Linked DNA regions of Homo sapiens. The protein of the gene in region 1 interacts with the protein of each later gene in a biochemical or structural test. Each region holds a gene or a part of one and is shown in the gene's direction. Other genes may lie near its edges.

Region 1 (3,822 bases):
GATTGGCCTTAGATGGAGGCCGGTGCTCTGGCTTGGTCCCATGCTTTCCTGTTGCCCTCTCCTCCAGCTGTGGTCATCTTTCCCGCTGTTTATTTCTGCAGCCCCCAGGGCCTCATGGCTCTCAGACTTCCCATAGAACAGAATGGAGGGCTTTGCTGGGAACCGTTCACTGCATGTCTCAGGATGCCAGGAGGCCACCATAAATGAGGGCTCTCAGGAGTGGGAGGCAGGCAGAGGAGGGTAGCAGGTGCTGTTTTCCCATACCCCTTCGGGTGGGGACCAGCTGAGGCTGGCCTCTCTATGTTATCTGGTACCCTGGGTCAGGGTGAGACAGAAGGACCTGTCTAGTGATGCTGGGGTTTGGTCCAAGGCTTTCAGAAACCCCTCCTCTCTTTGCGGCCCAGGATATACCCCCTACAGAACTACATTTTGGGGAGAAATGGTTCCACAAGAAGGTGGAGAAGAGGACGAGTGCCGAGAAGTTGCTGCAGGAATACTGCATGGAGACGGGGGGCAAGGATGGCACCTTCCTGGTTCGGGAGAGCGAGACCTTCCCCAATGACTACACCCTGTCCTTCTGGTAATGCCCCCGACCCAGGGAACGCCTACCTTCTTCTCCATGCCAACCGATGAGGCAGGGTGGCGAGTGGTTCTAGCTCAGGCAGGAATTGGGCAGGCTGGGACCTGAATCCCAGGCTTCATTTGTCTAGCTCTTCTAGGCCGGGACAAGGGTGAGGTGGGTATGACTCACTTCGGCACTGTAACCCAGATTAATGAGATTTCAGGGCAATCTTTTAAAAAATCAAAAGTAATGCAAAAAAGTCTGTGATGAACAAAATATGAACATTTTAAACAAAGACAAGATCTGACCCTACTCTTAGATGATGTGGTCTCACTCACTTTCCCCGATCCCAGCCCTGGAGTGGGTCATGTGGCTCTGGATGATTCAGCCAACCTTCTAGCATCTCTGTCTCCTCCATAAAACGAGGACTCTAGGGCTGTCCTTTTGAAGCCGTCATAGGCTGTGATGAGCTTGTGCATTCATTCATCCACCCACTTATCCATGTCTCAGTGCATTAAAAGATACTTCTTGAGGGCGTGCCCTGTGCTAGACACAGTACTTATGCCAGACAGACAATGTCTTTGTCCTCCTGGACACTAGCGTCTTTTGAAGGAGATGGGCAATGAAAAAGCAGTCACTCAAATGATTTGCAAGTATAGTTGTGATGAGTGCAATGAAACAAGGCAACATAAAGGGACATCCCTCCCTTTATTGGGGGGGTTTAATGTGAGTTGGGGGGATTTGTGAAAGTCTGTGAGGAAGGCTCTGATGCCCTGACGTGGGGAATGGTTAGGAAAACCTTCCTGAAAGAAGATGAGACCTGAAAGAGGGAAATTATAATTCTGTCACTTAAAAAAAAATTGTGATAGGGTCTTGCTCTGTTGCCTAGGCTGTAGTACAATGGAGCAGTCTCAGTCACTGCAGCCTCAAACTCCTGGGCTCAAGCAACCCTCCTATCTCAGCCATTTAAGTAGCTGGGACTACAGGCACATGCCACGACACCTGAATAACTTTTAAATTTTTTGTAGAGCTGGAGTCTCACTACGTTGCCCAGGCTGGTTTTGAACTCAGCTCAAGCAATCCTCTGGCTTCGGCCTCCTGAAGTGCTAGGATTACAGCTGTAAGCCATTGCACCTGGCTGAAAATTAGAATACTAATAACACGCAAATAATCCTGGACACCTAAATGATGCTTACCATGTGCTGGGCAGTATTCGAGACACCTTGTGTGTGTGGTCTCGTTTACTCTTCAGGATGCCTCTTTGAGGTGGATACTGTTATCATTCCTGTCAGACCGCTGGGGTAGTAATACAGTGTGGCTCAGACAGCACGGGTGACCTGCTCCAGGACACTTGGTTCATATGTGGCAGAGCTGGGATTTGAATCCAGGCATCCTGGCTCTAGAGAAGCAGTTATATATATAAAAGGGGGATGGGGTGGGGTGGGGTGGGGGAAGTAGGTAGAATGTTCTGGAATCCAGGCTGAGGGTCTAGCCTATACTAAGGCCCTGCATCTGGTTTTGTTGTTGTTGTTGTTGAGATGGAGTCTCGCTCTGTCGCCCAGGCTGGAGTGCAGTGGCGTGATCTCGGCTCACTGCAACCTTCGTCTCCCAGGTACAAGTGATTCTCTTGCCTCAGCCTCCCAAGTAGCTGGGATTACAGGCATGCACCACCATGCCCAGCTAATTTTTGTATTTTTAGTAGAGACGAGATTTCACTGTATTGGCCAGGCTGGTCTGGAACTCCTAATCTCAGGTGATCCACCCGTCTCGGCCTCCCAAAGTGCTGGGATTACAGGCATGAGCCACTGCGCCCAGCCTCCTGTGTCTGTTCTAGGAGCAGAGGGAAGGTTGTGTGGCCACATGTAATGTCCCCGCCTCTGAGGCCCTGGCTGCCGCAATGGCCTGGCCTGCGTTCTCCCAGCACTGATGGCGTCCTCTCCCCGCAGGCGGTCAGGCCGGGTCCAGCACTGCCGGATCCGCTCCACCATGGAGGGCGGGACCCTGAAATACTACTTGACTGACAACCTCACCTTCAGCAGCATCTATGCCCTCATCCAGCACTACCGCGAGACGCACCTGCGCTGCGCCGAGTTCGAGCTGCGGCTCACGGACCCTGTGCCCAACCCCAACCCCCACGAGTCCAAGCCGTACGTGTCTGAGGGTGGAGCAGGAGGCAGGCGGTGGTCGGGTTAGCTCCACCAGGCAGAGAAGCTGGCCTGGTGGTTCAGCCGGGCCAGTCCCCCAGGACACCCTCTCCCCAGCCCACCGGCATCTCAAAATTGCCGAGGTGGCCAGTTTCCAAATTCCTGGCACCATGACCTGTGTCCTTTTCTCTTTTCTTTCTTTCCTCCCCTTTTCTCTTTTCCCTTTCTTCTACTTTGTCTTCATAGCCCCGAGACTTTGGGCTTTGATTTTCAGAGGGTCATTTTGGCCTGGGGATATTCTCTTACCTTTCAGAGCTCCTTCCTGTTTGTTCTGAAAATGAACAAGGAAACAATGATTATAAGAGTCTCCCGCTGATTTTTTTTATCTAGTGAAATGAGTATCAAGGTAGGTCTTGCGAAGGGTCAACAAATTCTGGGAATAAAGAAAAAACAATTTTTAGGCAGAAAGCTGCAAAAATGTCCATTTCCGAGGAGGCCGTATTACTTATAGCAACTTTTTTTTTCACTTTTTCTGTCACATTTTCCTATGGATTGCCTCTTAAAACTTGCTATTTCTTATCTTAAGAAATAACCCGAAAACAACCCAAAACCTTGTGAAACTCCTGCTGTGATCTCCGTCTTCGATTTTCTGAGACACGTGGCAATAACTGTGCCTCCCTGGGAGCCTGGCTTTTCAGGTTTGGGCTGCTTGGGTGGATGAAGATGAATCAATTTTTTGAGACAAGGTGTTGCTCTGTTGCCCAGGCTGGAGTGCAGTGGAACAATCACGTCTCGCAGCAGCCTCGAGCTCCTGGGCTCAAGTGATCCTCCCACCTCAGCCTCCTATCTGGGACTGCAGGTGTGTGCCACTGTGCCCAGCTAATTAATTAATTAATTAATTAATTAATTTTGAGACCGGGTCTCGCTCTGTCTCCCAGGCTGGAGTGCAATGGCACGATCTCAGCTCACTGCAACCTCTGCCTCCCAGGTTCAAGAGATTCTTGTGCCTCAGCCTCCTGAGTAGCTGGTATTATAGGCGCACGCCACTGGGCCTGGCTAATTTTTGTATTTCCTTTTTTTTTTTTTTTTTTTTTTTTTGGGACAGAGTCACATTCT
Region 2 (3,822 bases), on another chromosome or scaffold:
TAAATGACGACAACGATTTCCATAGAATAAACAAAAAGGTAGGCTCCACTGGGTATCAGTCTCACACAGAGAGTCAAGACACCACATATTTATTGAGAACATAACTGCAAAAATAGGAAACACTTTTTCTATCTGAGGCCAAAAACCAATCATGAAAACAGCAAAAGCACATATGTATAAGGAATTAAAATTTAGTTTATATATTAGAAAGATAAATTATATTCATCTACCTTTTTATGCCATGAATATGTCTTACTGCTTTATTGAGGTATCACTGACATAAAATAAAAAGTGTACAATTTGATGGATTTTGACATATGTATGTACACTTATGAAACGAACACAGCCAAGATAATGAACATATTTATCACCTCCAAAACTTCACTTGCACCCCTTTGTAATTTCTCATCAACATACCTCCCACCTATGCCCAGACTCTGGGCCACCACAAACTGCTTTCTGGCACTATAGATTAATGTGTATTTTTCCAGAATTTAATGTAAATCAAATCATAGAGTATGTAGTCATTTTTATCTGACTTCTTTTATTCGGAATAATTATTTTGAGATCCATCTATGTGGTTGCATGCAGCAATAGTTCATTTTTTTGCATTGCTGAATAGTGCTCCATTGTAGGGATGCATCCCAAATTGCTTACTCATTTATAGCTATTACAGCTAAAGTTGCTATGAATATTTGTGACTAAGTCTTTGTGTGGGTGTATGCTTTCATTTCTCCTGGGTAAATAATCAGGATTGGAACAGCTAAGTTGTGTGTTCTATGTAGGCTTATCTTTTTTAAGAAACTGCCAAACTGTTTCCCAAAGTGATCATGCGATCTCACTATTCCCATGGGCATTACATGAGTTCTGATTGCTCTACATCCTTACCAACATGTGGAACGGTCAGTCTTTTACATTTTAACTGTATTAATAAGTGTGTAGTGGTATCTCATTGTGAGTTGAATCTGCGTTTCACTAATGACTAATGATACTGGGTATCTTTACGAGTGCTTATTTGCCATCCATGTATTTTCTTTTCTTTTTTTATTGAGGTTCAACAGCAGATTTTACTTTTTTTATTTTTAAAAACTTAAGTCTAATTCAAGTAAAATAAGCTGTACATATTTAAAGTATACAATCTAATTCATTTTATTTTATTTGATAGATAAAATTATATGTACTTATTTTGTACAATGTGATGTTTTAAAATATATATACGTTGTGGAATGACTAAATCTAGCTAATTAACATATGCATTACCTCATCAAGTTATCATTTTTGTAGTGAGAAAACTTAAAATATCCTCTCAGCATTTTTCAAAAATATAATATATGGTTATTATTTTATTTTATTTTTTTTGAGATGGAGTCTCACTCTGTCACCCAGGCTGGAGTGCAGTGGCACCATCTCGGCTCACTGCAGCCTCCACCTCCTGTGTTCAAGCTATTCTCCTGTCTCAGCCGCCTGAGTACTTGGGATTACAGGTGCCTGCCACCACACCCAGCAAATTTTTGTATTTTTAGTAGAGACAGGGTTTCACCATGTTGGCCAGGCTGGTCTTGAATTCCTGACCTTAGGTGATCCACCCACCTTGGCCTCCCAAAGTGCTAGGATTATAGGCCTGAGCCACTGTGCCCTGCCTAAGAACGTAATATATGGTTATTAACTATAGTCATCATGTTGTACAATAGATCTCTTGTTTAACTGAAATTTTGTATCCTTTGACCAATATCTCCCTAATCCTCCCCCTCTCACTGACAAGGCCTGAGAACTCTCATTCTACTCTTTAGTTTTATGATATCAACTTTTTTTAGATGCCACGTATGAGTGAGACCATGTGGTATTTTTCTTTCTGTGCCTGGCTTATTTCAGTTAGGATAACATCCTCCAGATTTATCCATGTTGTTGCAAGTAACAGGATTTTATTTTTCTATGGCTGAATAATATTCCATTGTGTGTGTGTGTGTGTGTGTGTGTGTGTGTGTGTGTGTGTAACTTTCTTCATTCATCTATTAATCAAGTTAGGTTGATTCCATGTCTTGGCTATTGTGACTAATATTGCAATAAAAGTGGGAGTGCAGATATTTCTTCAACATACTAGATTCATTTCCATTGGATATATACACAGTAGTGAGGTTATATAGTAATTACATATATATATATATATATATATATATATATATTTTTTTTTTTTTTTTTTTTTTTTCAGACAGAGTCTCGCTCTGTCGCCCAGGCTGGAGTGCAGTGGCATGATCTTGGCTCACTGCAACCTCCGCCTCCTGGGTTCAAGCGATTCTCGTGCCTCAGCCTCTCGAGTAGCTGGGATTACAGGCATACGCCACCACACCCAGCTAATTTTTGTATTTTTAGTAGAGACGTGGTTTCACTATGTTGGCCAGGCTGGTCTGAAACTCCTGACCTCGTGATCTGCCCTCCTCAGCCTCCCAAAGTGTTGGGATTACAGGCGTGAGCCACGGCACCCGGCCAGTAATTCTATTTTTAATTTTTTGAGGAACCTCCATACTGTTTTCCATATGGCTATACTAATTTACATTCCCATCAGCATTGTACAAGGGTTTTCCTTTCTCTATATCCTTTGTCTTTTTTGATAATAGCCATTCTAACGGGCATGATGGTGGGTGCCTGTAATCCCAGCTACGCAGGAGGCTGAGGCAGGAGAATCGCTTGAACCCGGGAGGCGGAGGTTGCAGTGAGCTGAGATCGCACCACTGCACTCCAGCCTGGGCGACAGAGTGATATTCCGTCCCAGAAAAAAAAAAAGAGTTTTTTTAGGATTGTAGATTAACAAAGGTATTGCATATGAAACATAACGATAGATGTTACCTGGATTTGCATAGAACATTTTGATTCACACAGTCATTTTTTCCACAGGTTTAAAAATATTGTCTACACATACCGAATCTTCAGAGAGAAACACGGGTATTACAGGATACAGGTAAGAACAAAAAGGACGACAACAACAACAACACAAAAGTTGGGGGAGAAGAACCTGGGAACATGTCTTTTACCTGAGCCATGACTGTGCGAAAGCATTCTAAAAAGGAAAGCACAATGCAGAGATGAGAGTCAGATCGAGTTAACCTGGTTTTTCCCTGAAGAGAAATAGGAAGGTTCTAGGCTTGGGTTCTACTTTTTTTGTTGTTGTTTTGTTTTTTTTAGACGGAGTCTCGCTCTGTCGTCCAGGCTGGAGTGCAGTGGTGCGATCTCGGCTCACTGCAACCTCCGCCTCCCGGGTTCAAGCGATTCTCCTGCCTCAGCCCCCGCCCCCCCAAGTAGCTGGGACTACAGGCGCGCGCCACCACCCCCAGCTAATTTTTGTATTTTCAGTAGAGAAGGGTTTTCGCCGTGTTAGACAGGATGGTCTCGATCTCCTGACCTTGTGATCCGCCGGCCTCAGCCTCCCAGACTGCTGGGATTACAGGCGTGAGCCACCGCACCCAGCTGGGTTCTACTTTTGAATAACCCTCACTGTTATTCCACTGTGGCTCCTCCACTGGCCAAACACACCAGCCTGGACTCCAAGCAAAACCTCCGTTGAATTAGAAGACTCAACAATGATGCAAGATGGAGCTAGAAAGGGACGGTGGAAAGAGGTCAGAGTGTTTAGGGAGTCAAGTGTGCCCAATAGTTGTACGAAAATATAGTGGGAAGCATCAGATAGCTGAAAGTCTTAGGGTTTGTTTAATTTTTCTGGTTTACTGAGAGCTAAGCAGAAAAACATTTTGCTTCTTTTAAATTTAGTTCTCTGGCTTAAGAAGTAGAGTATAATAAACATAACTGCTAACAGAGAATCCTAAAATA

The links.
Region 2: the proteins of PLCG2 (region 1) and SH2D1B interact in a biophysical measurement, tested with the Homo sapiens proteins (one study listed by IntAct).

Annotation. Positions count from the first base shown.
Region 1 is NC_000016.10:81,908,012-81,911,833, forward strand, and holds part of PLCG2 (1-phosphatidylinositol 4,5-bisphosphate phosphodiesterase gamma-2), read left to right. Parts: intron 1-404; coding exon 405-580; intron 581-2,508; coding exon 2,509-2,709; intron 2,710-3,822. UniProt on the Homo sapiens protein: The production of the second messenger molecules diacylglycerol (DAG) and inositol 1,4,5-trisphosphate (IP3) is mediated by activated phosphatidylinositol-specific phospholipase C enzymes. It is a crucial enzyme in transmembrane signaling.
Region 2 is NC_000001.11:162,401,873-162,405,694, reverse strand, and holds part of SH2D1B (SH2 domain-containing protein 1B), read left to right. Parts: intron 1-2,892; coding exon 2,893-2,956; intron 2,957-3,822. UniProt on the Homo sapiens protein: Cytoplasmic adapter regulating receptors of the signaling lymphocytic activation molecule (SLAM) family such as CD84, SLAMF1, LY9 and CD244. In SLAM signaling seems to cooperate with SH2D1A/SAP.